Linked DNA regions of Homo sapiens. The protein of the gene in region 1 purifies or fractionates together with the protein of each later gene. This does not show direct contact. Each region holds a gene or a part of one and is shown in the gene's direction. Other genes may lie near its edges. The genes, in order: PCNT, PRKAR2A, CEP72, TUBGCP3, TUBGCP2, CHLSN and OFD1.

Region 1 (4,351 bases):
TTAGGAATCAAATTTCTTAAGCCATTTTGTCAATTATGTATATAAAAACCATTGGTGCTTTAGAAGCAGATATTTCATTAACTTTTTTCTGATTATATCATTGTACATCATCAGTTCAGTCTAAAAAGGAGTTTTTTTCATATGTATTATAAAATATTTCATGATATTTGAGTTTAGTATGCCTTTAATCCAGTTGTAGATGTTAAAATAGGAGTAATTTTGTGTTCAAAATAATGATCTTCTGAAAAGTGAAATTCTAGGAAAGAGTCCACTGTTTAAAGCTAGCAGCTGGTGGCCGTGTGGCCGAATAATGTCCCAGGCCAGGGCACTCCCCTCTCAGATGGTTGGTCATGCTGCGTCGGAGATCAGGAATCCTCAAGGAACCTTTATGTTATAGTTGTACCAGTGCTTTAAACATAATGAAAGGTGCATTTGTTTTATTTTACCCATCTATAAATTGTGAGAGGTTTGGCTATGGAGAGTCTAGTGAGCTTATTGAACAGCATAAGAAGATAAGTGTGTGTGTTTGTGTGTGTGTGAGAGTGTGTGTATGTGTGTGTGAGGGGGAGGGAGAAGTTATTGTGCTTTCCAACATATAATAAATTGCTTACTTTGATCACTAACTGTTAGGTAAATACTGATGATTTCTAGCATAAGTCTTTTTTCTTTTTTTTGGAGACAGGTCCTCCCTCTGGCGCCCAGGCTGGAGTGCAGTGGCCCAATCAGCTTACTTCAGCCTTGACCTCCCTGACTCAGGTGATCCTCCCACCTCGGCCTCCCAAAGTGCTGGGATTACAGGCATAAGCCGCTGTGCCCAGCTGATATAAGACATATTTTTAACCAACTTTAAGATCTTAGTTTTTTTTCAGGATGGTTATAAGCGAAGGTAGAATTGCAGAAAGACTTTGTGGTAAATATTCAGGATTCGGCTCTGTTGCCTTACAATTTGTTAAGTGCATGATGGAAAAATAGTTGAAACAATGCAACAGCTGTCTCAGTTCTGAAAGTTAACTCAGAAATGGCAGAAAGCAAGGTCAGGCATGGTGGCTCCGAGCACTTTGGGAGGCCAACGTGGGAGGATGGTTGAAACTCTGTCTCTATGAAAAATATAAAAATTAGCTGGGCATGACAGTGCACACGTGTAGTCCCAGTTACTCAGGAGGCTGAGTTGGGAGGATCACCTGCGCCCAGGAGTTTGAGGCTACAGTGAGCTATGGTGGCACCACTGCACGCCAGCCTGGGCGGCAGAGCAAGGCCTTGTCTCAAAAAAAAAAAAATCATAAAAATAAAGCAATGGTAGAAAGCAGAATTTGACCTTTCAGTTACAGATGAGGAACAAAGTGAGGAGAGGCCATTTTTTGGTAAAAGAACCATCTGGCGGGACGCATTGGCTCATGCCTGTAATCCCAGCACTTTGGGAGGCCAAGGCAGGAAGATCACCTGAGGTCAGGAGTTCGAGACCAGCCTGGCCAACGTGGTGAAACCCCATCTCTACTAAAAATACAAAAATTAGCCGGGTCTCATGGCAGGCGCCTGTAATCCCAGGTACTCGGGAGGCTGAGGCAGGAGAATCACTTGAACCCGGGAGGCAGAGGTTGCACTGAGCCGAGATCGCGCCATTGCACTCCAGCCTGGAGGACAAGAGCGAGACTTTATCTCCAAAAAAAAGAGAACCATCCAAAAATTGCTCAGAGGTCAAGAATTTCAGAAGAAAATACAAAAACTTTGGCTGAAGAAGATTTAACTAGTGCTATAGAAGGCTTAAGAAGTGTGGTTCTAGCACTTTTCCAACTCATATTTGTATCAAATACCAGGAAAAATAGTTATCACCATTTATCATCTAGATTTCTGGGCCGTTTTACTGTTTTGTCATTTTAAGTTGTTTTACACGTAATTTACAGAAGTAAGAATAAAGCAATAATTTAAAACAACTTTATAAGAAATTTGATCCAACCTCTTTGTATCAAGTAAGTTTTGACACACAAACATTAGAAGTGTCCTCTTAAGGAAGTGGATGGTCCAGGTTCCTTTGAAGTGTGATCATTCATGTGAGCGGGCAGCTGATTGAGACTACTGTGTCCCCTTTTCGTCCCTCACTTCCTCTTGATTCTGAGAAGATTGATCTAGGGTATTGTCAAATGAAGACTTGTCTGAGATTTTATTTTCACGTCAGTTTTGCCATCATCATTGGCCATGGGTGCTCTCTCTCTGCATTCATCTTGTGACTCATCTAATGATCCCGAAAAGTCGACACTGTCATGTTTCTTTGCTATTTTGGGAAGAAATTGAAATGTTCTTAGTGAATCATCTTGTTAAAGCAAGCTAATCTGGGCACTGTGGCTCATGCCTGTATTGCCAGCATTTTGGGATGCTGAGGTGGGAGGATTGCTTGAGCCCAGGATTTTGAGGCCAGCTTTGGAACATAATGAACAGAGACCCTGTCTCTACAAAAAAATAAAAAATAAGCTGGGCACAGTGGCGCATGCCAGTAGTTCCAGCTACTCAGGTGGCTGAGGCAGGAGGATCACTTGAGCCCAGGAGGTTAAGGTTGCAGTGAGCTGGGATTGCACCACTGCACGCCAGCCTGGGTGACAGAGCAAGACCTTGTCTCAAAAAATTAATTAAATTTCTTTTTTAAAGTAGAATTCATGGCCGGGCGCAGTGACTCACACCTGTAATCCCAGCACTTTGGGAGGCCGAGTTGGGCAGATCACAAGGTCAAGAGATTGAGACCATCCTGGTCAACATGGTGAAACCCCGATTCTACTAAAAATACAAAAATTAGCTGGGCATGGTGGCACGCGCCTGTAGTCCCAGCTACTCAGGAGGCTGAGGCAGGAGAATGGCGTGAACCCGGGAGGCAGAGCTTACAGTGAGCTGAGATTGTGCCACTGCACTCCAGCCTGGGTGACAGAGTGAGACTTCGTCTCAAAAAAGACAAAAAAGAAAAAAAAAATTAGCCGGGCGTGGTGGCATGCGCCTGTAGTCCCAGCTACTCGGGAGGCTGAGGCAGGAGAATTGTTTGAACCCGGAGGCGGAGGTTGCAGTGAGCCGAGGTCATGCCACCAGCCTGGGCGACGGAGTGAAACTTTGTCTCAAAAAAAAAAAAAAATTACAGGCTGGGCACGGTTACTCACACCTGTAATCCCAGCACTTGGGGAGGCCGAGGCGGGTGGATCACCTGAGGTCAGGAGTTCAAGACCAGTCTGGCCAACATGGTGAAACCCCCGGGAGGTTGAGACAGGAGAATCACTTGAACCCAGGAGGTGGAGGTTTCAGTGAGCCGAGTTCGTGCAACTGCATTGCAGCCTGGCAACAGAGCAAGACTCCGTCTCAAAAAAAAAAAAAAAAGTAGAATTCATTAAGAAGAGGGGCAGGAACATCATTAGGGAAATTACTTGCATTATAAAAATGTTTAGAGCTGGCCAGGTGTGGTGGCTCATGCCTGTAATCCCAGCACTTTGGGAGGCCAAGGCGGGCGGATCACGAGGTCAGGAGATCAAGACCATCTTGGCTAACATGGTGAAACCCTGTCTCTACTAAAAATACAAAAATTAGCTGGGCGTGGTGGCGGGCACCCATAGTCCCAGCTACTAGGGAGGCTGAGGCAGGGGAATGGCGTGAACCCAGGAGGCGGAGATTGCAGTGAGCTGAGATTGTGCCACTGCACTCCAGCCTGGGCGACAGAGCAAGACTCCGTCTCAAAAAAAAAAAAAAAAATGTTTAGAGCTTGGGAATTGTTAATGCGGAAGGTGCACGTTCTGAACAGGTGGAAGTGAGCTCTACTTGTTAAATGAAGTCAGCACAGGCCTGCAGATAGAGGAGCTGGGAAGGGCCTGAGGCTGCAGCCCTAGACCTTGCTTTAAATGCTTCTTTCTGGTCCTCCCCTTCTTAGCCGGAGGACTGTGATGGAGAGAAGAGAGAGGACTTGGAACAGCTGCAGCAGAAGCAAGTCAATGACCATCCTCCAGAGCAGTGTGGGATGTTCACAGTCAGTGACCACCCACCAGAACAGCATGGGATGTTCACAGTCGGTGACCACCCACCAGAACAGCGTGGGATGTTCACAGTCAGTGACCACCCACCAGAACAGCATGGGATGTTCACAGTCAGTGACCACCCACCAGAACAGCGTGGGATGTTCACAATCAGTGACCACCAACCGGAACAGCGTGGGATGTTCACAGTCAGTGACCACACACCAGAACAGCGTGGGATCTTCACAATCAGTGACCACCCAGCAGAACAGCGTGGGATGTTCACAAAGGTATTCTTTAAGTTCTCTGTTAAGGTGTATTCTTTGTCAAAAGATTTCTTTATGTTGTAGAAATCCAAACCAGTGAGAGGACCT
Region 2 (4,351 bases), on another chromosome or scaffold:
ATGGTGTTTCACCATATTGACCAGGCTGGTCTCAAACTCCTGACCTTGTGATCTGCCTGCCTCAGCCTCCCAAAGTGCTGGGATTACAGGTGTGAGCCACCGTTCCCGGCCTACCCAAAATAATTTTAAGCAGGGAGTTAAACAGATAGTTATACTCCAGTGCTCATTGCAGCATTATTTACAGTAGTCAAAAGGTGAAAACATGGCACGTGCCTGTAATCCCAGCACTGGGGGGCCGAGGCGGGCGGATCACCTGAGGTCAGGAGTTTGAGACCAGCCTGACTAATATGGTAAAACCCCATCTCTACTAAATTAAAAAAAAAAAATTAGCTGGGTGTGGTGGTGTGCGCCTGTAATCCCAGCTACTCGGGAGGCTGAGGCAGGAGAATCTTTTGAACCCAGGAGGTGGAGGTTTCAGTGAGCGGAGATCACGCCATTGCACTCCAGCCTGGGCAACAAGAGCGAAACTGTCTCAAAAAAAAAAAAAAAAAAAAAGGTGGGCCAGGCCCTGTGGCTCATGCCTGTAATCCCAGCACTTTGGGAGGCCGAGGTGGGCGGATCACGAGGTCAGGAGATTGAGACCATCCTGGCTAACACAGTGAAATTCCGTCTCTACTAAAAATACAAAATATAAGCCGGGCGTGGTGGCGGGTGCCTGTAGTCCCAGCTACTCGGGAGGCTGAGGCAGGAGAATGGCGTGAACCCAGGAGGCAGAGCTTGCAGTGAGCCGAGATTGTGCCACTGCACTCCAGCCTGGGCGAGAGAGTGAGACTCCGTCTCAAAAAAAAAAAAAAAAAAAAAAAAAAAGGTGAAAACAAACCAGGTATCCAGGTATACATCCATAAATGAATGGATAAACAAAATATGGTATATATATACATAAGACCGAGTGTTGCTCTGTCTCCCAGGCTGGAGTGCAGTGGCACGATCCTGCTCACTGCAACCTCCACCTCCTGGGTTCAAGCAGTTCACTTGCCTCAGCCTCCCGAGTAGCTGGGATTACAGGCGTGTGCCACCATGCCTGGCTAGTTTTTGTATTTTTAGTAGAGACGGGGTTTCACCATGTTAGCCAGGCTGGTCTCAAACTCCCAACCTCAGGTGATCCACCCGTCCCGCCTCGACTTCCCAAAGTGATGGGATTACAGGCATGAGCCACCATACCTGACCATCCTTAAGAAGGAATGAAATTCTTATTCATGTTACAGCATTGAAAATATTATCCTAAATGAAATGAGCCAGATACAAAAGGACAAATAATGTATGATTCCACTTACAGAAGGTAACCAGAGTAGCTAAATTCATAGGGACAGAAAGTAGAAGAGAGCTAACCGAGGGCTTGGGGGAAGGTGTAATAGGGTGTTATTGTTTAATAGGTACAGAGTTTCAGTTTGGGATAATGAAAAAGTTCTGAAGTTGGATAATGGTGATGGTTGCACAATGTATGTACTTAATGACACTGAATTGTACACTTAAAATGGTGAAGTGGCACATTTTATGTACATCTTACCACAATTTAAAAAGGAAGAAAAAATGAATTGTATACCCAATGACATTAGAATAAGTCTACACTACTTAAATTAGAAATAGGATATGTTTCAACTCCAGAGCCAATAAAAAAAAGAACAAGAAGTATCATATGTAATAACTGTATATAGCAAGGAAGCTTTGCTTAGTGAGGTCCTTGTGACTAACCACCAATTCAGTTTATAAAATTGTATCCTATTGGAAAGAGTCAAAAAACTTACTAGCTGTTATTTTAATAACAGCTTTAATATCAAACAGGACATAACTTCAAAGTATAAAGTATTATAATGCGTATTTAATGTTGAGAGATGCCTGAAGAGTATAAACTTATTAATAAATTACTGTAGCTGCATACAAACAATAAATCGACATTCAGAATTGTTTCACTTCTGTAATTACCATAAAGCATTTATACTTGCCGGTCTCTCAGCATTTTTTTTTTTTTTTTTTAGGTAACAGCTTTATAGAGATATGCTTCACATACAAGTCAACTATTTAGAATGTATAATTGGTTTTTCATATCTGTGTGCAGCCGTCACCATAATAATTTTTTTTTTTTTTTTAGACGGAATTTTGCTCTTGTTGTCCAGGCTGGAATGCAATGATGTGATCTTGGCTCACTGCAACCTCTGCCTCCCGGGTTGAAGCAATTCTCCTGCCCCAGCCTCCCGAGTAGCCAGGATTACAGGCGCGTGTCACCACGCCCGGCTAATGTTTGTGTTTTTAGTAGAGATGGGGTTTCATCATGTTGGCCAGGCTGGTCTTGAACTCCTGACCTCAGGTGATCTGTCTGCCTCGGCCTCCCAAAGTGTTGGGATTACAGGCATGAGCCACTGCACCTGACCAACCATAACAATTTTTTTTTTTGAGACGGAGTCTTGCTCTGTCGCCCAGGCTGGAGTGCAGTGGCGCGATCTCGGCTGACTGCAAGCTCCACCTCCCAGGTTCGTGCCATTCTTCTGCCTCAGCCTCCCGAGTAGCTGGGACTACAGGCGCCCACCACCATGCCTAGCTAATTTTTTGTATTTTTTTTTTTAGTAGAGACAGGGTTTCACCGTGTTAGCCGGGATGGTCTCGATCTCCTGACCTCGTGATCCGCCTGCCTCGGCCTCCCAAAGTGCTGAGATTACAGGCATGAGCCATCGCGCCTGGCGCCATAACAATTTTTAGAACATTTTTCCTCACTCCAAAAAAAGTCCCATATACTGTTTTGTTTTTCTTTTCTTTTTTCTTTTTTTTTTTTAAAGATGGAGTCTCTCTCTGTTGCTCAGGCTGGAGTGCAGTGGTGAGATCTCAGCTCACTACAATCTCTCCCTCCTGGGTTCAAGCAATTCTTGTGCCTCAGTCTCCTAAGTAGCTGGGATTACCGGCATGTGCCACCATGCCCAGCTAATTTTTGTATTTTTAGTAGAGATGGGGTTTCACCATGATGGCCAGGCTGGTCTCGAACTCCCAACCTCAGGTGATCTGTCCACCACGGCCTCCCAAAGTGCTGGGATTACAGGTGTGAGCCACTGCGCCCGGTCACCATACACTTTAGTCATCACCTCACCAACACCCTCATTCCCCTCATCCCTAGGCATCCTCTAATCTACTTTTGTCTCTACCATTTGCCTATCCTGCATATTTCATATAAATGGAATCATATAATATGTGTTGTTGTTGTTTTTTTTTGAGCGGAGTCTTGCTCTGTCGCCCAGGCTGGAGTGCAGTGGCGTGATCTCAGCTCACTGCAAGCTCCGCCTCCTGGGTTCACGCCATTCTCCTGCCTCAGCCTCCCGAGTAGCTGGGACTACAGGCGCCCGCCACCACACCCGGCTAATTTTTTGTATTTTTAGTGGAGATGGGGTTTCCCTGTGTTAGCCAGGATGGTCTCGATCTCCTGACCTTGTGATCCGCCTGCCTCAGCCTCCCAAAGTGCTGGGATTCCAGGCGTTAGCCACCGTGCCCAGCCAATATGTGGTCTTTTGCCGCTGGCACTTAGCATAATGTACTCAAGGTTCATCCATGTTGTAAGCATGTATCAGTACTTTTTTTTTTTTTTTCCTTTTTCCACTTGTTCTAAATAAACTTCATTTCTTTTTATTGCTAAATACTATTCTGTTGTCTGGAAATACCATTCATTTCTGGATATACCATTTATCCATTCATATGTTGATGGACATATAGATTGTTCCCACTCTTTGACTATTATGAATAATGCTGCTACGAATATTTGTGTGTACAAGTTCTGTGTGGAGCTGTTTTCATTTCTCATAGGAGTAGAATTGCTGGGCCATATAGTAGCTCTGTTTAACCTTTTGAGGAATTGCCAGTCTGTTTTCCAAAGTGGCTGAACCATTTTACATTCCAACCAGCAGTGTTTTGAGGATTCTAATTCCTCTACATCCTTGTCTGAACGTATCTGTCTTCTAAAATTATTATAGCCAAACTAGTGGGTGTGAAGTAGTACTTCATTGTGGTTTTGATTTGCATTTCTCTAATGACTAATGATGTTGAGTGGACATCTTTCCATGTATTTGTCAGTTGCATTTCTTCTTATTTTTTAAGATAGGGTGTCACTCTGTTGCCCTGGTTGGAGTGTATTAGCAGAATCATAGGTCATTACAGCCTTGAAATCCTGGGCTCATGCCACCATAGCTGGGCTCCTGGGCTCATGCGCCACCATAAGTGGCTAATTTTTTTTTTCATACCTGGCTAATTTTTATTTTTATTATTATTATTTTTGAGACAGGGTCTCTGTCACCCTGGCTGGAGTATAGTGGTGCAATCATAGCTCACTGCAGCCTAACCCTTGCAGGCTCAAGCGATCCTTTCACCTTAGCCT
Region 3 (4,351 bases), on another chromosome or scaffold:
TATACTGTTAGAGGAAGAAATGTTTTGAATGACCCTTGTCAGGCACAGTGAGGAAGGCTTTATTCAGAACCATTGAGGTGGGCCTGGGGCCACTGCGCTGGGATTTTGCAGTGGGGGAGAGAGATGGAGCTCAACTCCAAGTACAGCAGGGGCCGGGGGGAGTTTATAGCCTAGGGTCAGGGTGGGGGCAGTGGATGGAAAATGACTGAGAGGACACATGAGGAGTAAGGGGATTTGGGCTAAACCAACTGAACAGGATTATTGCGAAAGAGAGGCCAGGGTGAGCAGACACCACCTATGGGATCTGGGGATGAGGAACCTGAGCAGATACTGAGGGTGGGGGTTTTGGCCGCACTAAACTGGACTTTACAAGGAAGGGCACAGATGGCCGAGGAGAAGATTCAGGAGCCTGAGTAAAGTTGAATTAAACCAAGAATCTGTGTCAGTTTCTACTCCATATCCAACACCAAGAACTTGACCGTTATTATAATTGTTTTCAAAATAAAAGATTAAAATCTTACAATTTTTCTATTCTTAGCTGAGCTTCAGTCATTGTCTATTCCTGGAACTTACCAAGAGAAGATCACCCACCTGGGACATTCTCTGATGAGTTTAACAGGTCTGAAATCTTTGGATCTCTCGCGCAACTCCTTGGTTAGTCTGGAGGTAAGTTTTAGGTCTCTTTCTTAAAATTTATTGCTATCAACATCAGTGGAAAGTCCATTCACAGCAGAAACGGAGTCTGTTTTGTAACCCTCTGCTTACATCTGTATACGGTACACTTTGTGTTGCGTATTTTTGTGTTTACCGTGGGCTACATTTCATACACATCACGTTACGTTGTGTTGTCGCCCTCTGATGACGATGATTATATCTTTAAAGGAAATGAAATGAGACCCCAGAGACTTACTGAGTGGCAGTGCAGTGGGCCTGGGGCTGCCTCCTGGGCTCCTGGCAGGGTCACCCTGGAGAGAGATGCCTAGGTGGTGGTGAGGGGAGCTGTGCACAACTACCATGGCCTGATTGGCCCTGACAGAACCGTGGGATGCGCCTGCCCTGAGCCCGATGCCTGAGCATTATGGAGGCTGCGTCTGCATGGCCTGATTGGCCCGGACAGAACCGTGGGATGCGCCTGCCCTGAGCCTGGTGCCTGAGCATTATGGAGGCCACGTCTGACACCAGCTCGGGAGTCTGCTCCAAGTCAGATGCGGACCTAGCCCAGGCTACACCCAGTGCTGCCTCATCTTTCCCCGTTCCCAGGCCTCAGCTTTCTCATCTGTGAAGGGGGGGCTGATGGTTCTCACCCTGTAGGGCGGCGTGTGGATTAAATGAAATTGTGCGTGCACATCACTCAGCTTGCTGCACGCTGAGGCCTCGGTAGATATTAGCTGTGCTTAGTTGCGTCACATGTGGGTTCCATAAACGACCGTCTCACCGCGTGGGGCCCAGAGAACTTCACAGATGAGAACGTTTCATTTTTCTACTTTTCCTGGTAATGACATGGAGTTATTGCAAATAAGTTTATACAGTTGGTTGGTCAGTGTGTGTTGCTGGCTTATTTCACTGTGTATTTCTTGTTTAAAGTGTGAATGAATTCACTGTGTTTTCTGTTGACAGGGCATTCAGTACCTGACTGCATTGGAGAGTCTCAATCTCTACTACAACTGCATCTCCTCGTTGGCAGAAGTGTTTCGGCTCCACGCCTTAACCGAGCTCGTGGATGTGGACTTCCGGCTGAACCCCGTGGTGAAGGTTGAGCCTGACTACCGCCTTTTTGTTGTGCACCTGCTCCCCAAGCTCCAGCAGCTGGGTAGGCATCAGGCAGGGCCACGCTCATGCTTTTGTCCCCGTGGGGTATGGGAGTCGGGGAGTCGTAGTGGGTGTCTGTGTGCTCAACGTCACATGCTTGATTCCTTCTGGAACGGGGAGTTGGTTTTCTACGCTGGTGGCTTGAGTTCCTGCAGACACACAGCTCGAGAGGCCCTGTGTCTGCACAGGACAGGGCTGGAAGTTGAGCACCCTGGGAGGGCGCAGGGCTGGGGCCGTGGGAGCACAGCCCCGGACCAGGCTGCTACGTCCTGTTCTGGCTCTCCGCGTCATGGCTGTTGGACTTGGGCACGTTCCTGAACATCTCCTGTCCTGTTTCCTCGCATAGCCCCCAGGTATCATCTCAGGTGCAGCTAAACAGCAGGATGCTGCCTGGTTTTGCCCCACTTGGAAGCACACAGGACAAGCAGCTCATTGTCCCCCACACCCCACCACTGGGACAGGGTTGGGAGGGGATGTGCAGTGACCTTTGGATCATGCTCCTGAAAGAAAAGGCTTTCCATGACAGTCTTGTAGGCAGAACTTCCAGGGCCCCCACAGCGATGCCCAGTAGGGAGGGTCCCTGGGTTGGGGCAGCCGCAGGTCACCTTCCCATCTGCCTCCTGCCTCCCCGGAGGCATTGTTGCTGTTGCTGTTGCTGTGAGCACCTGGTGGTGTCTCTGCTGACCCTACCCCGAGTCACAGATCCAGGAGAGAAAGCTGGGGCCTCAGCCCAGGGGCACACTGACCAGAGTCCATGGGGAAGAAGAGGGTGCAGGGTCTCTTACCTCAGTCCTCCTGTGTGAAGTGGGGGGATAAGAATGCTGTGTTGACATGTCGTGGTGGGGAGACCTGAGTTAATATCTGTAAGCTCCCAGACTGCCCGGCATGGCCAGGGGCCTATAAACGTTCCCTGGTTGCTTCTGTTGTTAGGGTCAGACCTACCATGCACCGCTGTTCGAAAGCTGCCCCTCCTTCTGAACCTAGGACCTTATCAAAAACAAAAGAATCACAGAATCCCAACTATCTTGTTAGAACAAAAGACCAACAGAATCACAGAGGACAGAGCACTTTCCCCCACTGCGAGTGCCCTGAACAGGCTGTTTTCCACGGCTGTGGGGAGCATTCAGGTTCTCTTAGAGAACTGAGATTTGTATGTCAATTTCAAGTAAACAGCAGCTAAAGCACGTTGGTGGGTGATGTGCCTGGCCCCTGGGTACTGCCCGTTGTGGGCGTCGGGACTGAGGGCCAGCTGGGGTTTTGCCACCCACCAGATGAACACCCGGCAGCCCTCACCCTGTCAGCCCCATGAAGTTCGTGTGACGTCAGCAAAGCTGCACACCAGAGGTGGGAAAACAGGTGGAGGAGCACCTAAGCGCCTCAGCGAGTAGACCGGGAAGGCTGTCTGGGGCCATCGTGGAGCCATGCGGGGCCGTGTCACCTCATCACAGGGAGGACTGGCCTGCGGTATCTTGATGGTGATGTGATCACACATGTGTTTGTATATGGAATTCTCACATTTTATTTTATTTTTGAGACATAGTCTCGCTTCATCGCCCAGGCTGGAGTGCAGTGGCGTGATCTTAGCTCACTGCAACCTCCGCCTCCCGGGTTCAAGCAATACTCCTGCCGCAGCCTCCCAAGTAGCTGAGATTACAGGTGCGTGCCACTGTGCCCTGCTAATTTGTGTCTTTTTAGTAGAGATAGGGTTTTGCCATGTTGGCCAGGCTGGTTTCGAACTCCTGGCCTCAAGTCATCTGCCCACTCTGGCCTCCCAAAGTGCTGGGAATACAGGCGTGGGCCACTGAGCCTGGCCAAATTCTAACATTTTAAACTGCACTGCTTTGCTACTTGGAGAAGTTTCTGGAGATGCTGGAAAGAGCTGTCAGCATGCAGCACACACACCCTCTGTTTGGTGACAGTGTAGGTTAGTGGTATGGATTGAAATCTGTTTAAAGGAGTCCTCTTGGAAGAATGCCCCAGTCTGCCACAGTTTGACCATTTTTCAGTAACTAACGATCAAAACAATTTTTCTCTGACCTTCTAAAAGTGACTTGAGGAGCTGACAGTATCCCTGGGTCCTGGTGGACTTTGCTCTTGCAGGAGCTCAGCTCCCCTGGGCACTGGGGGCTGGCAGTTGGCAGTGGCAGCATCGGATGGGAGGGCAGCAACTGGGGTGGCATTTGCTGCTCTGCAAGGGCTGGGAGGCACTCAGGGCGTCTGTGTGGCCAAAGTGAGACCTAGCTCCCAGCATCACTGACAGGGAAGACCCTGGCTCACCCACTCATGTGGCAAGTGCTGGGCCCTGGACAGGCCCTGCGGCTGGGCTTCCAGAGCCTGAGCAGTGTGGATAGAGCTCTGTGCTGCAGCTCTTGGCAGCGAGGAGCGCCTCCTTGGGAGCATGCGGCGTGCATGCGTGGTGCTGGCCACCTGAGAGCCTGGCTGCTGTGCCTGACACTCTTCCCCCTGGGATGGGGCCGTGGACATTAACAATGGACCCCCCCAAGACACAGTGTCTGTTTCCAAACCCAATTAGGATTTCGCT
Region 4 (4,351 bases), on another chromosome or scaffold:
ATAAATCATTTTGTGATTTATTCAATTATGTTCAAGATACTCGAAAACAGAATGTGTGTTCTATACATATGGATTACCAATGGGGTCTAGTGTTCTATGAAGAAAACGCAAAGCATTTAAAAACAGAACTTGACACATTTAATCTAGAATTTAAGTTCCAGCTAAAAGAATCAATTGACATTCTCATTTATACCTCAGAATTTGAATTATTATCCTATTAAAAATCTGTATAGAGAACTTTGAACTGAAAGTCTTTTAGAATCATCCTCTTAAATTTAGAACTATGCCCAGAGACATAGTTTTAGTGAATGTTGTTGACTTCTCTCCTGATGAAAATGGAATAAAATAAGAACTGTTTCAGTTCTTTCCTGTTCTCCTTACTTCACGAGTGGATTATGGATAAACCCCCCCAGTATTGCACCAGTACTAAATCCAAGCTCTGGCACCTGGAAACTGTAGAGCAGCTGAGGTTCTCATTTTTGTGTTTTGTAGTCCCAGGAAGTGATATTTTTGTTGCACCTGTCAAAACTGACGCTATTAGAAATCAGCTATGAGGTTCTTACATTTTTCAAAAAACAACTTTGACATAGTCTCAAAATTGCTGACAAGCCATCTTGACCTTGAATATGCATTTGCCTTAGATTTTATACGTTTGTATACTTTAGCAGTTAATTGAAAATTGCAGTTTCTTTTCATAGTGAGCACTCTGAAGGCTGAAGACAGGTGAGGCCAGGCGCCTGGGGCAGTGTCACAGTGACTCGATTCCTCTGCTCAGTACATGGGGAGTGAACGAGAGTTGTGGATTTTGAAGTTAAAATAAGTAGAGAATTTCAAAGTGGTTATGGGGTGGGTAAGGTATGTTATATGTTTATAAAGAAAAGCCAAATAGATTTTGATATTAATGGTAAGAAATATATATTGTAAGGTAGCAGTAAGATGATTTTTCCACTGCTGTGTTGGGTCCGAATGCTAGGCCAAGGGTCGCAAGGAGGCTTGACCAAGTTCAAGGGACTTGGGACTGTCTGTTATTGATATATTCGGTTAGGGTAAAGTCATGGTATCAGCTATACCAGATTTATAAATTTATGTAATTCACGATAGTAATACAAGAGAAATTTCTAGGGACACTTTTGTCTCTTCAGCGAATAGCCTATTAGAAGATAATACATGTTTCTTTTTTTAGACAGTCTAATCAAGCTCCAGGAGTAGGAGATTGCCTTCGACAGCAGTTGGGGTCACGACTCGCATGGACTTTAACTGCAAATCAGCCTTCTTCACAAGCCACTACCTCAAAAGGTGTCCCCAGTGCTGTGTCTCGCAACATGACAAGGTCCAGGAGAGAAGGGGATACGGGTGGTGAGTAAGGATCTATGTTAATACAGCTTTTCTGTGAACACTTGGAATTCAGCCTCTCCTTATTTTAAAGTACAGCCCAGGAGCCCCACCTCAAACCTTTTAGTGGTTTCTTCTTGTTCTTATGATGAAGTCCAGAGTCCCTGGTGGTCTGCGGCGCCTTGGGGAGTTTGGCTTTTCACCCCAGGCCACCTGGGCTTTTTCCTCCCAGCACAGTCTGCTTTTTGGCTGCTTTTCCATGTGGCCTCCTCCCTCCACATCTCTCGTCTTTGCTGTTCCTCATCACATTCTCCCTGTCTGTTTTCATCCTGCCGTTTCCCTGGGAAAGTCTTTAAGGCTGGGTTAGGCCCCCAGTAAAAGTCACCTTCTTCTACCAAAGTCTTAAGGCCACAGAGGGGCTATGTCTTTTCATTTATGGTGCCAGTGCTCAGCACAGTGCCTGGCACGTCGAAGAGAGTCATTGAGGAATTACTGAATGGTGAGATGAATACCTCATGGAGGGTTTTAAAGCCCTGCTAGATTCCAAAAGGAAGCTTGAGTTTCTTTATTGAGAACACTACAGTTAGCAGCATTTGAAACATGAGTGTCCTGAAAACAGAGGATTGGGTTTCCCTGTTGGCTCGTAATCTGCTGATTACGAAATGGCTCTGGATGTTACCTGTACCTGTCCTTGCGTAGAATGCAAAGGTGAGGAGCATCTGAGAGCTGGAGGACATCCTGGCACAGTATTAGCCCCCGCAGTAGTCTCCACCATCTGCCCCACTCCGCCTGTCCCTGTGTGTGGCTCCCGCGTCCAGCCTCTGTCCACAGCTGCAGATTCATGTCGTGTTTGACAGCTGTGCGTTCATGGCACAGCAGGCCAACCTCTAGACTGAGACTCGCCTTGTTTCTTTCTAATCTCATACTCTTTTTCATCTTGAGCTTATTTATTGAGTTAGTAAATTTCATCGGGGTGGCAAATATCTAATCTGAAGCTAATTGCACCATAATATCTATTGTCTGTTAAAATATTGTCTAGTAATTACTGTCTTTAAAAAATGATTTTGCAGGTACTATGGAAATTACAGAAGCAGCTCTGGTAAGGGACATTTTGTACGTCTTTCAGGGCATAGATGGCAAAAACATCAAAATGAACAACACTGAAAATTGTTACAAAGTAGAAGGAAAGGTACAGTAACATAAAATCTAAGTTAAAATATTCAGAAAGAAAAAACATGTCATGAAGTCCAGATAGTGGCTGTTGATTGATAAGGTGGTACTGGGGTTTTGCGAATCGGTTGTGAGGTGAAATTGCACTGTGGAATTCTGGTTTCTATTTCTGTCCATTGTGGCTCGTTCAGTTTTGTTATGGGGACCCTTTGTGATTAATGTGTGCCTCCTTTCCTCACGTCTACTGATGGGGCTGCCCCATAGCTGATTTCTGCATCCTGCTGTGTGATGGCTGAGGCACCCAGGGGACAGAGGTCCCTTGGCACCTTCGGCATTGATGCAGGATTCCAGGTCAGGGGTCTTCACCCACTTTTGTTTCCTTTTTCCATAATCTGCCTTTACCATGCCCATTTCTTGTGGTGTGGGTCACACTGTGGCTCTTAGCCCTTTCACAGCGTGGCTGAGATCACAGACCTTCTCTGCCACACCGCAGGCCAACTGCAGGGTGGTGTGAAATGAGCTCACCATGCCCTTTGAGGTGCTTTCCATCATGCTGTCACTTAATGTGCTTTCCTTCCCTTTAGTGATGGGATCTTAGTTTTAACTTTTATGTCTTGAAGCCTAAGGATTATAGTATTAAAAGTAGAAGTGCTTGAGAAAAATACTAATTAAAGCTCTAGTATTGCTTTTTAATGTTTAACATTTGATGTATTTACTTTTTAGGCAAATCTAAGTAGGTCTTTGAGAGACACAGCAGTCAGGCTTTCTGAGTTGGGATGGTTGCATAATAAAATCAGAAGATACACGGACCAGAGGAGCCTGGACCGCTCATTCGGACTCGTCGGGCAGGTGCGTTCATGGTTCCTAGGATGCTGGGATGCTGCGCACTTTGGGAAACGCTTACTCTAGTTGAAATCTTACTGTGAAATAGCTCCTTCTAAGGCTCTTTCCAAGTAAAGCAGCTTTGAGAGTCAACTTTCAGGGTCCACTCAAGACAGTAGAAACCACAGTAGGTGCTGATGAGGACACTGAATACAGCAGGTTGGCTCAGGAACTGCTGGAGGACTGTAAAATACAGAGAAAATGGTGAGACAGAGCTGGCCATGGGGAGCTGGCATTGCCCGATTCCAAACGCTCGAAGGGGGCCCTGCCCAGCTGCTGCTGCCTCCTCCAGAAGGTTGAGGAGGGGCCCTGCTGGGACGGGGCCTGCCAACAGGGGACACTCCCAGCTGCGTGATTCCCCAGGCAGCACGGTGAGGCAGGATTTGGGAACACTGCCGAAGCTGGAGATGGGAATCCTGGCTATGGCTGTCTGGACAGCCCTGGGTGGGCACTGCCGATGGCACAGTGCATGGTTGGGAGGGAGCTGCTGCTGCTTCTCCTCCTGTTGGAGCCTGACAGGGGGCAGCTAATAGGAGCCGTGGCATCTCCACTGTCCAGCCCTTCTTTGTGGCTAAGCAGCATGTGGTCTTGTCCATAGGTTGATTATTGGGCAGTAATTACTGCCAATGAAATCTCCAAAAATTATTGAATCACAGAACAACTGTGTACTATAAGCTCAGCGTAGCACAGGACTTATGGCAGCGTAGCTGGTGGGTAGGAGGGTGGCTGGTGAGTAGGAGCGTGACTGATGGAGAAGAGCATGGCTGGTGGGGAGGAGTGTGGTGCTGTAGTGTGGCTGGTGGGCAGGAACGTGGCCGGTGGGTAAGAATGTGGCTGGTGAGTAGGCACTTGGTGTGGCAGTGTGGCTAGTGGGTAAGAACATGGCTGGTGATTAGGCATGTGGTGTGGCAGTGTGGCTGGTGGGGAGGAGCATGGCTGGTGGGTAAGAACGTGGCTGGGAGTAGGA
Region 5 (4,351 bases), on another chromosome or scaffold:
TGTCTTCTTACCTATAGGAGAACATATTGTGATGTTCGTGCCTCAGAGCTAAAACTATGAGTGAATTTCGGATTCACCATGACGTCAATGAACTGCTTAGCCTGCTGCGTGTCCACGGAGGAGATGGGGCTGAGGTCTACATTGACCTGCTTCAAAAGAACAGGACCCCGTACGTCACTACCACTGTCTCTGCTCACAGTGCCAAGGTGAGCACTGCCCTTGGTGTAGCGCTGTGCAGGGTGAGCACTGTTCCTGGGTCAGGGTGGTGCAGGGTGAGCCCACCCCTGGGTCAGGGTGCAGGGTGAGCGCCGTTCCTGGGTCAGGGTGGTACAGGGTGAGCACCATTCCTGGGTGAGGGTGCAGGGTGAGCCCACCCCTGGGTCAGGGTGCAGGATGAACACTGTTCCTGGATCAGGATGGTGCAGGGTGAACCCACCCCTCAGTCCATGTGCAGGATGAGCGTCGTCCCTGGGTCAGGGTGCATGATGAGCACCGCCCCTGGGTCAGGGTGCAGGGTGAGCGCCACCTCTGGTGCAGGGGGCAGGGTGAGCGCCACCTCTGGTGCAGGGTGCAGGGTGAGCGCCACCTCTGGTGCAGGGTGCAGGGTGAGCGCCACCTCTGGTGCAGGGCTGTGCGGGGTGCAGGGTGAGCGCCACCCCGGGGTCAGGATGGTGCAGGGTGAGCACTGCCCCTGGTGCAGGGCTGTGTACCGTGCAAGATGCAGGGTGAGTGCCCGTTCCTGGGTGGCCTCAATGGTACCGGCAACGATGGCAGACAGCACTTGGTCTGTGTGTGTGTTCAGCTCTGATTCTCCTGACTCCCCCCAGCAGCTCCTGTGATTCACCCCACTGTGCAGATGAGTAAATGGAGGCCTATGGAGAAAGCTGGGCCTAGAACCCTCCCTCTTCCCCACTCTGTCCCCTGCAGCCATGAGGTGGGAGAGTCCTGACATGTGCATTCCTGTGGATAAAAAGGGAGGGACTGGGCCAGGCGCGGTGGCTCACACCTGTAATCCCAGCACTTTGGGAGGCTGAGGCAGGTGGATCACAAGGTCAGGAGATCAAGACCACCCTGGCTAACACGGTGAAACCCCGTCTCTACTAAAAATACAAAAAATTAGCTGGGTGTGGTGGCGGGCACCTGTAATCCCAGCTACTCGGGGGGCTGAGGCAGGAGAGTGGCGTGAACCCGGGAGGTGGAGCTTGCAGTGAGCCGAGATATCGTGCCACTGCATTCCAGCCTGGGCGTCAGAGTGAGACTCTGTCTCAAAAAAAAAAAAAAAAAAAAAAAAAAAAAAGGGAGGGACTGGTATTAACCATGTTGAAATGCCTTTAAGGTATTATTTCTTTATTCAGATAATATGTAATTCAGAAGTATAGATTTTCAGTAAAAATGATTTTGAATTTGAAGTCTATTTTAAAAAATACATTATGAAGCTTCAGTTATTTAAACAGGTTAACAATGGCACAAGGATAATTAGGCAAATTAGCCGAGTGGAATAGAGACTTGGGGACACCCATGTTTAGTTCATTCTGAAGGAAGCATTGTAAATCACTGAGTAAAACATAACCCCTGCTGGGCACGGTCGCTCACACCTGTAATCCCAGCCCTTTGGGAGGCCGAGGCGGGTGGATCACCTAAGGTTGGGAGTTCGAGACCAGCCTGGCCAACATGGAGAAACCCCATCGCTACTAAAAATACAAAAATTAGGGCGTGGTGGTGCGTGCCAGTAATGCAGCTACTCAGGAGGCTGAGGCAGGAGAATTACTTGAACCAGGGAGGTGGAGGTTGCGGTGAGCCTAGATCACGCCATTGCACTCCAGCCTGGGCAACAAGAGCGAAACTCCGTCCAAAAGAAAAAGCATAACCCCTAGGGTTGCACATAATAACAAATTCCAGAGGGAACATAGTGAGGTGTATACAATGAACGCATAAACTACTGCGGGGAATACAGTGAGATGCAGACAATGAACGCATAAACTACTGGGGGGAAAAGGTAAGTCGCTACTCTCCAGTACAAACCTGAAGAAGCATAAAAGGGAACACAGTGAGATGCATACAATGAACGCATAAACTACTGGGGGGAAATGCAAGTTGCTACTCTCCAGTACAAACCTGAAGCAGCATAAAAGGGAATACAGTGAAATGTATACAATGAACGCATAAACTACTGGGGGGAAGTGTAAGTCGCTACTCTCCAGTACAAACCTGAAGAAGCATAAAAGGGCGGGCGCAGGGGCTCACACCTGTAACGCCAGCACTTTGGGACGAGGCAGGTGGATGGCTTGAGCCTGGGAGTTTGAGAGCAGTCTGGGCAACATGGTGAAATCCTGTCTCTAGAAAAAATTAAAATAATACGAAGAAGCACAAAAGGAAAGGAACCATAATGGGAAATACGGATAAGGTTTGTTTTGTTTTGTTTTGAGACAGAGTCTTACTCTGTCACCCAGGCTGGAATGCATGTGGCACGATCTTGTCTTACTGCAGTCTCAACCTCCCAGGCTGATGTGATCCTCCCATCTCAGCTTCCCAAGTAGTGACCACAGGCAAGTGCCACCACGCCTCGCTAATTTTTGAATCTTTTTGTAGAAATGGGGTTTTGTTATTTTGGCCAGGCTGGTCTTGAACTCCTGGACTCAAGCAGTCTACCAGCCTCGGCCTCCCAAAGTGCTGGGATTACAGTCATGAGCCACTGCCTAGCTCAAAACATGGATAAGTTTAACACAATATGGAGATGAGTTTTGTTAGTTTATTTCAGAGGGATAATTATTTAACCTACCCAATTTAATTCCATTGGCTTATTGTGTTCAATTTTCGTAAAGGTTTTTTTTTACAGTGCTTTATTAATTACCGTCATTAAATCACTCATGTTTGTGCTTTTGAGGTTAAAATTGCAGAGTTTTCTCGTACTCCAGAAGACTTTCTAAAGAAATATGATGAACTGAAATCTAAAAATACAAGGAACCTTGACCCGCTGGTGTACCTGTTGTCAAAGCTCACGGAAGACAAAGAGGTAGGTGCCCATGCCACGTGCCACACTGCGCCCGTACGGCCCATGTTGGGAGTGGGGTCGCGTCTCCTGCTCACTCCACGCCATCTTCCTGTCAGCTCTTCCTCGCTCACACCAGTAACGCTTCTAGGCCATGTAGGAAATTTTTGGTGAATCAGAATGAAAGATAACCCATGTTGGGTGTAAACATGAGAAGCAGCCTCTGGGGCACTTTGAGCTTCCCGCATGTGTCACGCTCAGTTCCTGCCTGTCGCACGCGTCGCTTTGCTATTAATGGGTGCCTGTCAGGGTTGGGGAGCCGTCCTGGTGGTGTCGTCCCTACTCTCCCCCTATGGCCAAAGAGGTGCTGGCCCAGTGTGAACACACAGTTTTACATGTTTTCAGACTCTGCAGTACTTACAACAGAATGCAAAAGAAAGAGCTGAGCTTGCAGCCGCTGCTGTGGGCAGCAGTACCACCAGCATCAACGTCCCTGCCGCGGCCTCCAAGATCTCCATGCAGGAGCTTGAGGAACTGAGGAAGCAGCTTGGCAGCGTGGCCACAGGCTCCACGCTGCAGCAGGTACTGCGTCCATGGCTGTCCACAGGCTCCATGCTGCAGCAGGTCCTGTGTCCGTGGCGTCCACAGGCACCCACACTCAGTGCTGTGCCGGGCCCCTGCTGGAAGGACATGTCTCTCTGTCATTTATTGAAAATGAATCCCTTAGAGAGGCCAAGGCTTAATGCTTGATCATGACCTAGCTCTATATGTTTAGTTTTTTTTTTAACCAAGAATTCTGGACCACAAGAATCAATAGCAGCAAGGTTCTGACCCACGTGGGAGTTGTGCTGCCAGGTGGCCACGTGACTCTGAGCCTACCCAATCCTGACTCCCCATTTCCCTCCTCCAATTTTTGACAATTTTGAGGGAATGCTTTCAGATCATTATATTTTCAAGATTCTCGAAAATACAGTAATTTTTATTATTCCTTCTGTATTTGCTACTTGCTCTTGGTTTTGATTTTATGCCCTACCCTGGTCTTTTGACGTAAGTCATCTCCCAGTCTCTCTCATTAGAGCTGCCACGTTCCTGCCTTTGTGACCTTTAAACTCCCTTTGGAGCTGTGTCCCTGAGGCGTCCTAGCCTCCTGGGTGCGTGTTGAGTGCAGCGGCTCCCAAGGACCCAGCCGGTTCTTGCTGGGCACGTTCTGTGCTGGACATGGTGCTAGGCCTCTGTCCACGTCTCCCTCAGCCGTGGCAGAAGACTGGGTCTTACTGCCACGTGCAGAGACAGTTTGCATCTGCCCGTGTCCCTGACCAGCCCTGAGTGGGAGTCAGTGCTTCCGAAAGCTGGGCCAGCCCA
Region 6 (3,722 bases), on another chromosome or scaffold:
GCATAGCCTGCAGCCACTTGCTTTCATTATTTTGTTGTTTTTGTTTTTTTGTGGGCGTTTTTTGAGACAGGGCCCCGCCCAGGCTGGAGTGCAGTGACACGACCACAGTTCACTGCAGCCTCGACCTCCTGGGCTCAAGCCACTCTCCCTCCTCAGAGTTAGAGGACATACACATTGCAAGCCCTATTGCAAGCCGATTGTAAGCCCTATTGCAAGCTCCGGTAATCGCGACACTGGGGCAGGCACAAGGGTGGAAGTAGAATTGACTGGAACAGCCTGGGAAGCCTGGAAACCCTCACGCCCGGCGCAGCTGATTCCAGCATGCGGGCCAAGCCTGTTCCATGTGGAGGAAACCTCTTCTTAACAGAGCCAGGGACAACTGGGTTTCCACGTTTTGTTTTGTTTTAACCAAAGTTTACGTGGTTTTATTTATATGTTACTATTACCAAAAGTAAACTTTATACAAAACTTTTTATACAGAAAAATAATCCTTGGTTAGGCAAATCCTTGGTTAGCCATTTATATGTGTGTATACACACACACACACACGCAAAGTTATCTTACACTATTGTAATTAAACATATTTACAAACACACAAATGTGCATTTTACTTATACATTTTTATTTCATATGTAACCGTACATATTTACGAACATGCCGATACTTAATGCACGCAGCCCCCAGCTTCAAACCATATGCAAAAATTAACTCAAAATGGATCAGAGACTTAAATTTAAAAGCTAAAACCAAAACTCTTAGATGAAAGCCTAAGAGTCCATTTCGTGCCCTTGGGTGAGGCAACAGTTTCTTAAATGTGACTCTAGAAGCACAAGCGACAAAGGAAAAAGTCGAGAAAGTGCCTTCATCAGGATCTAAGACTGTGTAGCCGGGCGTGGTGGCTCACGCCTGTAATCCCAGCACTTTGGGAGTCTGAGGCGGGTGGATCACTTGAGGTCAAGAGTTCGAGACCAGCCTGGCCAACATGGCAAAAACCCCGTCTCTACTAAAAATACAAAAATTAGCTAGGTGTGGTAATGCTTGCCTATAATCCCAGCTACTTGGGAGGCTGAGGCAGGAGAATTACTTGAACCTGGGAGGTGGAGATCGTGCCACTGCACTGCAGCCTGGACAACAGAGCAAGACCGGCTCAAAAAAAAAAAAAAAAAAAAAAAGAATCTAAGACTTTGCACTGCATACAGAACTAGCTGGAAAGTGAAATGGTTGCTACAGAATGGGAGACGTTTGCAAGTCCCACATGGAATTAGAACTCTGCTAACTCAATAATAAAAAGAGCCCAGTGTTGAAAGCCGCTGCCACAGGGACCTGAGGAAACGTGCCTGCAGAGCAGATTGTCAGGTGACTGGTGAGCCTGTGCAGAGGTGCCCCCACCACCAGCAGACAAGGGTCAGGCCACCAAGAGATGCCACCTGGCCACTGCCGCCCTGAGCAGAAAGGCGAGCGTGCCAAGTGCCGGCGCGTACTTGGCTTTTTGTTCTGAATGCACCTTTCATCACCGCCTACCCCTGTTTAATTTGTGTCGTATTTTCTCGTTTTTCTGAGGATTTTTACGATGTTTGTGAAATGTTCTCCCCACATGGCTTCTGTTTTACCCAGGTTAATTGAGTGTTTTGTCTGCCTCTAAACAGGCATTTCTTCTTCCAGTGTCTGGGGCAGGGTCTGTGGCCAGGCCGCCCACACCCTCGGGCCGCAGTGGGAGGACGGAAGCCTGAGGCCCGGGTGTCCTTGGCTGCAGCGTCTTGTCTCCTGCTGTTCAGCGGCCCCTCCCTGCCCCGCCCCTGACCAACTCGATCTCTTTCCCGTCCAGGTTCCCGATGAGCACTTCTCCACCCTGCTGGCCTACCTGGAGGGGCTGCAGGGCCGGGCCCGAGAGCTGACGGTGCAGAAGGCGGAAGCCCTGATGCGGGAGCTGGATGAGGAGGGCTCTGATCCCCCCCTGCCGGGGAGGGCCCAGCGCATCCGACAGGTGCTGCAGCTGCTCTCCTAGTGGGTTCAGCGCGGGGCGGGGCCGCTGCCCAGTGCAGGGCTGCCTCAGACCACACAGGGTGCAGCTCCTCCGGCGGTGGGGGCCGGGTTCACCAGCAGGGCAGCGGCTGAGCAAGGGCTTTCAGCTCCTCCGGTGGTGGGGGCCGGGATCACCAGCACCAGAGCCTCGCAAGGGCCCCTTCCCTCCTCCAGACCCTCCTTGGCCGGTGACGGCTGTGACAGTGATGGCAGGTTCAGTGCCTTCAGCGCAGAGCGTGGATGCTCTGGAATCACCCGGACCCCTGGCCTTGGAGGGACCCTCCAGCCCCAGGAATCTGCTTTGGAGGGAAATGTCTATTTTTCTACCGGGAATATTTTAGAGATTGGGGCATGCTGGCTCCTCCCGCCAGCTGCAAACCTGCACCTTCCGCCTGATTCCCGATCCCCCTGCGTGGGCCGCATTCCTGGTCCCCTGCCTGCGTCCATCGAGGGGCCTGGCTGTGGCCTGTTTTCCTTTGACCCCACACAGCGTCATTGCGGGTCATGGGGAGCCCCTGGTGGGAGCTTGTGGAGTCGGATCACGTACCTGTGCAGAAACCGCCTCTGTGGCTGCATTTGAAATAAAACCCGACCCAGCAGCAGCCGTGGGTCCTGCTCTGTGCGGTGCGTCCCCTGCCTGTGGACTGCGGAATTCGTGTCCCCCATGCCAGCGCACGCCAGGCTGAGACCCCGCCCTTGGTGGCCACCCCAGGATGGCATTGGGGGCGCTCTGTGTGTGGCGTTCCTGGCAGTGGGTGCTGGCTGATCGCTTGCGTTCAGGCCGGCCGTTTCCCAGCGCTGGCAGTGACTGACCCTGCCAGGAAACACACTTAGGCCGCACAGAATCAAGCCACACACTTCCTGTTCCCAGCAGCACGTGGTCCCTGCCCCCAAGTGATGTGAGGTGCCGCGGGGCACCGGGAAGGCCGTGGTGACCGCAGAGCTCTGGGCAGCTGCCGGGGAGGGCCGGGTGGCCATGGCGAGGAGGTCCGTGCCCCACTGTGAGGCCAAGTCTGTTCCAGGATGGGCCCCGGGGAGGGCTGAGGCCAGTGGCTCCGGTCTGGGCCTCCACAGAGCAGACACCCAGGTGCTGCTGCCCCGGGGCCGCCTCCTGCCCAGCCCAGGTTGGGGGTTTGTGCTGCCGTCTCAGTGCTCCCCCAACTGACGGTGGAGCAGAAAAGTAGCTGCAGCCGCCACCTGGCAGCCTTGGGACGCTGGCTCAGGCCCTGAGTGCCCCCTTGGGTGCCCCGCCCCCCAACAGAGCTCCTGAGGCTGAGGTCAGGCTGCCTGCCTTGGCTGCCACCAACGCACAGAGCTGCATGCAAGCCGGGAGGCGGGAGCACGGCCGGCCTCACCCTGTGAGAGCAGAGTCACAGGCTCCGGGCTGTTGTTGTGGGGAGGGCCTGGGGCTTCCCGTGGCCACTGCTGGCCTGGCTGGGCCTCCTCAGCCGTGGCCCTCGGGGCCTGCACCTCAGAGCGGTGACTGGCCTCACTGTGACCCACGGACGTCTACTGTGACTTCCTCCTTAGCTCCCTGAAGACACCCAGGGCTGGGCTAAGATGTGGTCTGGGCAGGTCTGGCTGACCACTCAGGCCATCTCTATGTGGACATCGAGACTCGGGGCCGGAGGAGACCCTAAGGACCGTGTCCCCAGGTCCTCTCTGCACCCACCAAGCTGTGGGAAGGAGATGAGGCTGTT
Region 7 (4,351 bases), on another chromosome or scaffold:
GAGGAACTCAATCAATCTGTAAATCGTGTGAAAGAACTTGAGGTAATTGTTAAGCATGTTGGTTTTTGAAATAGATTTTAAGCAATATATGAAATTTTAGTCATACATAATTTATCCTAAGTCATCCTGTTGAGATGTTTGGACTGCCATTTATATGGCTAAGAAGGTGTTAGCTGAAGTTAATTCAATAGTTCTTAATTTCAGTCAGTGTCACATAGGAAAGTGTAGATAGAGCTTTGGGTCCTGGAGTCCTGCCCACATCCTGTCTGTGTCTCTAACTGCTTGTGTGTCGCTAGGTAAGTTCTGTGACTGCAGGTTCCTGAGCTGTAAACTAGGATGTTTTCCACATTATAGGGTTGTTGAGGGAATTCAGTAAGCTAACTTATGTGCCTAGTTCATAGCAGGTGGCCATTACTATTAGTTTCTACATCAGCCTGTTATCTCCTTCCATCAGCAGCAGGTAAACAAAATTCCTGTCATTACATTGTTATCTTACAGATTAAAACAAAATGAGGTACATTTTTCACATATCATTGCTTCTTTACTTTTCTGTTCATTCGTGTGCTTGCTGTCTGAAGGATGAAGCTGGAACTTTAGGTACTTACAACATATTTTGTATATGAAATTTATTTTAGCAACTGTGACTTATGTGAGAACTTTGTAGGCTTTTTACTCAAATATGAGATATACTAAGAAAAGGGAAGCACTTCACAACATTTTACAGAATCTTTTTTCCTTTCTTTCCCTTTTTTTTTTTTTTTTTTTTTTGAGACAGAGTCTTGTTCTTTCGCCCAGGCTGGAGTGCAGTGGTGTGATCTTGGCTCACTGCAACCAACCTCCACCTCCCGGGTTCAAGTGATTCTCATGTCTCAGCTCCCAAGTAGCTGGGATTTCAGCCATGTGCCACCACACCCAGCTAATTGTTGTATTTTTAGTAGAGATGGGGTTTCACCATGTTGCCCAGGGTGGTCTCGAACTCCTGAGCTCAAGCAATCCTCTTGCCTCAGCCTCCCAAAGTGCTGCGATTACGGGCGTGAGCCACCATGCTCAGCCATTTTTATCTTACCTTTCATATTTAAAAAATATATATTGCTATGATGTGTGATTATTGTTGGGTTCTTGGTTGCCTCTGGAAAATGGGATGATAATCTTAGAAGGACTTGCTTCATGGGATGCGGCCTATAAAAGTTCTGCCCCAACTGTAGGGCGGAAGATAATTTTCGTTATTGTAGTTAGAGTCTTATTGTAGAGAATCAGACTTCTGTCTAGTGACCTTAATTAAATTGTGACACCATGCTTAAAGGAGCCTGCCAGCTTTTACTTTTGCAGTACTGTAAAGTCATTATTCAAATGTAAATTTTCCTTTTTGAATTTTAGCTTGAATTAGAGTCTGTCAAAGCCCAGTCTTTGGCAATAACAAAACAAAACCATATGCTGAATGAAAAGGTTAAAGAGATGAGTGATTATTCACTACTAAAAGAAGAGAAACTGGAGCTTCTGGCACAAAATAAATTACTTAAACAACAACTGGAAGAGAGTAGAAATGAAAACCTGCGTCTCCTAAACCGTATGTATTTTTCTTTTCTTCTGACTTGCGTGTTTTAGTAATTCGCATTAGGTCAGTATTATAAAACTATGCTTTGTACTTGTATAAGGTAGGGGGCTTACATTGGGAAGATTTATAAAATTAAGATTCTTGGATTAAACTCTGCAAACCTGCCTATAGGTGGTATCAAAGCTTCCCTTGCCCTCTGACTGCTGATTGGGTTTGGCCAGTGGGGACACCAGCCTCTACATACAGTGGCCCTAGGCTGGCCACTGTGCCTCATGGCCAAGTGAGGCCATAGTGCCTGCGATTACCTCTTCCAAGTGCTCTGCACCACCACCCTGTCTCTAGTGCTGAGAATTTCTCCCTCCTCTGATTCCCCAGGCCCAAGGAGCGCTAACAGTATGGCCCTGTTACTAGCCCACCCAGGGAACTCCACCATCCTTTGTGCATACCCTGAATAAGTCAACCTTTATTAAAGGGTTCTTAGATGACCTTGACCGTGAGAGCCATCTGCCTTCTGCCTGGATCCCAACTGCTGCTGTCAGATGCCCAGATCATATTGGATCCCAGGGCTGTCATCAACAGGTAGACCAGATAGAGAGCTCCTTCTGTGCACAGTAGAGGAGAGAAACAGGCTTTCAGGTTAATTTGAGAATTTGAAAGAGTTCTTTTACTTGGAGTAGGACTCCAAGGGTAATAAAGTTTGCATTAACATGCACTAAATTCTTTTGTTGTGAAATTTGAGAGTCAGGATTGCTCTGAGCTCATTTAATAGAATTATTATCATATTTATTGAGTCAGTACAAAGCAAAGAACACTTTAAAACCCCTTTAACTGTTTTTGTTAAGTTAAATAAGAAAACTTAAGGTTGGTAATGACTAGGATTTTTTTTTTTTTTTTACCTTCTTAGGCCTAGCTCAGCCGGCTCCTGAACTTGCAGTCTTTCAGAAAGAACTACGGAAAGCCGAAAAGGCTATAGTGGTTGAGCATGAGGAGTTCGAAAGCTGCAGGCAAGCTCTGCACAAACAACTGCAAGACGAAGTGAGTATTGCTCTTCTTCAGTTCTAGTGTGATACCAGTACACTTCATAGTTACGTAAACTTGGCACAAGTCACACTAGTGTAAATCAGATTTATTTTAACATCAAACATTACTCCCCCAAATATGCTAAAGGTATCCTTTCTCATCTGAGAAAATTCTGCAGTGATAACGTGACTTTATATTCGTAATAGTAATAAAATGGAGAAGAAAGCAAACTCACCTAAACATAAAATTTTCTGAGTGCCTGATGGTGCCCACTGTTATCTCTCGATTCTCACCCTGATAAGTATTACAAACATTCACTGTCTTCTGATTTCTGCCTGCATGCCCTAGAGTTCTTTGATATGACTGAAAAAGATGGTGAAGAACTTGTTTGTGTGTTCTGCTTGTGTTTTTTTTTAATAGGGACCCTGTTGTTTACTGTCATAAAGCTTCTTGGAATTGGCAGAACAAAAAGAGTACAAACATGATAAGAGAACTTTTCCTTTTGAAGCAAGCTGTGATTTGTTTTACATTGATTTCTTTTCCTATTCTGAATCTTTTCAGATTGAGCATTCTGCACAGCTGAAGGCCCAGATTCTAGGTTACAAAGCTTCTGTAAAGAGTTTAACTACTCAGGTTGCCGATTTAAAATTGCAACTGAAGCAAACTCAGACAGGTTAGAGACGTTTTAACCCATAAATATTTTTGTATGTATAAAGCTTCTGGTGTCTGTGAAAATGTAATGATCATAATTTATTGAATATTAATTATTGTTTTAGGGGAAAAGCCATAGAAATATGTGTCATCTTAGAAGTAAAACTCCCTATCCATTTTGGTAATACCATCTGGATCATCAGCAAAAGTATTTTGCTTCATAGGTGCCTCATGGCTTGGGAGAGTCTCATGCCCCAATAGGAAAGGCGTGGTGGTAACATAGAAGTCCCCATATTCATTATAGGATTTCCTTTTTTATTTGTTACCCCAATGTTAACACCAATTCAGTAGTTTTACGGATTCCTTGATAGATATATAAATATACAGGACAAGCAGGGTGGTTTAGCAAAAAGAATATTGCCTTCAGAATCAGAACTGTTCTTCTTTTGGACCCGTTTTGAAGTTGTTTGACCTTGGGCATGTTACTTTAACTTCCTTGGGCCTCAGTCTCCTCATTTGTAATGGGGATAATAATACCTACTGAGCCATGATGAAAAAGATGAAATGGGTTTCAGTCCAGTGCCTGGGACATAAAAGACACTCAGGAAATGGTTATTGGTATCATTTTATTATTGTGTCTTCACTGTGGATGCATCTCTGCCCCTTCCTACTTCGTAAGAAGGATATTAAAGTTCAGATACTTTATTCTTCAGTTGCTTTCAAGTTCAAAGAAAGTACGTATGTGTTACCAGTTCAACTGGGTCTGAGCCTTCCTTGTTCCCACCTGCATTGTTTCCTCATCAGCTCCTTGCTCTCTTCTACCAGCACTTGTTTTATTTTTATCTCTACTCGTTTCTGCTTTTTTCTGTTCCTCATTTTCTTTCAGTTCTGTTTGTGAAACTTCTCACAGCTGAAATCATAGCAGTCTCCTATCAATAAAAAATAGTTGAATGAGGATAGAACTCTTTCGCATGCATGTGTTGCCGAGGGCAAGCTTCTTTCTTGTAGCATCACGGGGAGGCATTGCAGGAGAGAGGGGCAGGTGCACTGGCTTTGCATTAGGAAAGCCCAGTAGCTCTTAGACTTGCTAACCGTGTGACCCAGCCTCAGTAAGCTTTAGTCCCC

Evidence for each region.
Region 2: the proteins of PCNT (region 1) and PRKAR2A purify together in Homo sapiens (affinity purification with mass spectrometry; one large-scale study listed by BioGRID and IntAct). This does not show direct contact.
Region 3: the proteins of PCNT (region 1) and CEP72 purify together in Homo sapiens (affinity purification with mass spectrometry; one large-scale study listed by BioGRID and IntAct). This does not show direct contact.
Region 4: the proteins of PCNT (region 1) and TUBGCP3 purify together in Homo sapiens (affinity purification with western blotting, with the first as the bait; one study listed by BioGRID). This does not show direct contact.
Region 5: the proteins of PCNT (region 1) and TUBGCP2 purify together in Homo sapiens (affinity purification with western blotting, with the first as the bait; one study listed by BioGRID). This does not show direct contact.
Region 6: the proteins of PCNT (region 1) and CHLSN purify together in Homo sapiens (affinity purification with mass spectrometry; one large-scale study listed by BioGRID and IntAct). This does not show direct contact.
Region 7: the proteins of PCNT (region 1) and OFD1 purify together in Homo sapiens (affinity purification with mass spectrometry; one large-scale study listed by BioGRID and IntAct). This does not show direct contact.

The regions. Positions count from the first base shown.
Region 1 is NC_000021.9:46,330,502-46,334,852, forward strand, and holds part of PCNT (pericentrin), read left to right. Parts: intron 1-3,895; coding exon 3,896-4,267; intron 4,268-4,351. UniProt on the Homo sapiens protein: Integral component of the filamentous matrix of the centrosome involved in the initial establishment of organized microtubule arrays in both mitosis and meiosis. Plays a role, together with DISC1, in the microtubule network formation.
Region 2 is NC_000003.12:48,837,024-48,841,374, reverse strand, and holds part of PRKAR2A (cAMP-dependent protein kinase type II-alpha regulatory subunit), read left to right. Parts: intron 1-4,351. UniProt on the Homo sapiens protein: Regulatory subunit of the cAMP-dependent protein kinases involved in cAMP signaling in cells. Type II regulatory chains mediate membrane association by binding to anchoring proteins, including the MAP2 kinase.
Region 3 is NC_000005.10:618,452-622,802, forward strand, and holds part of CEP72 (centrosomal protein of 72 kDa), read left to right. Parts: intron 1-538; coding exon 539-666; intron 667-1,617; coding exon 1,618-1,810; intron 1,811-4,351. UniProt on the Homo sapiens protein: Involved in the recruitment of key centrosomal proteins to the centrosome.
Region 4 is NC_000013.11:112,553,057-112,557,407, reverse strand, and holds part of TUBGCP3 (gamma-tubulin complex component 3), read left to right. Parts: intron 1-1,183; coding exon 1,184-1,356; intron 1,357-2,402; coding exon 2,403-2,521; intron 2,522-3,225; coding exon 3,226-3,351; intron 3,352-4,351. UniProt on the Homo sapiens protein: Component of the gamma-tubulin ring complex (gTuRC) which mediates microtubule nucleation.
Region 5 is NC_000010.11:133,298,647-133,302,997, reverse strand, and holds part of TUBGCP2 (gamma-tubulin complex component 2), read left to right. Parts: intron 1-17; 5' UTR 18-56; coding exon 57-206; intron 207-2,884; coding exon 2,885-3,013; intron 3,014-3,394; coding exon 3,395-3,571; intron 3,572-4,351. UniProt on the Homo sapiens protein: Component of the gamma-tubulin ring complex (gTuRC) which mediates microtubule nucleation.
Region 6 is NC_000007.14:995,908-999,629, reverse strand, and holds the end of CHLSN (protein cholesin), read left to right. Parts: intron 1-1,825; coding exon 1,826-2,005; 3' UTR 2,006-2,196; coding exon of another isoform or gene 2,197-2,214; 3' UTR 2,215-2,624; downstream 2,625-3,722. UniProt on the Homo sapiens protein: Hormone secreted from the intestine in response to cholesterol, where it acts to inhibit cholesterol synthesis in the liver and VLDL secretion,leading to a reduction in circulating cholesterol levels. Acts through binding to its receptor, GPR146.
Region 7 is NC_000023.11:13,755,201-13,759,551, forward strand, and holds part of OFD1 (centriole and centriolar satellite protein OFD1), read left to right. Parts: coding exon 1-42; intron 43-1,377; coding exon 1,378-1,567; intron 1,568-2,459; coding exon 2,460-2,590; intron 2,591-3,136; coding exon 3,137-3,248; intron 3,249-4,351. UniProt on the Homo sapiens protein: Component of the centrioles controlling mother and daughter centrioles length. Recruits to the centriole IFT88 and centriole distal appendage-specific proteins including CEP164. Involved in the biogenesis of the cilium, a centriole-associated function.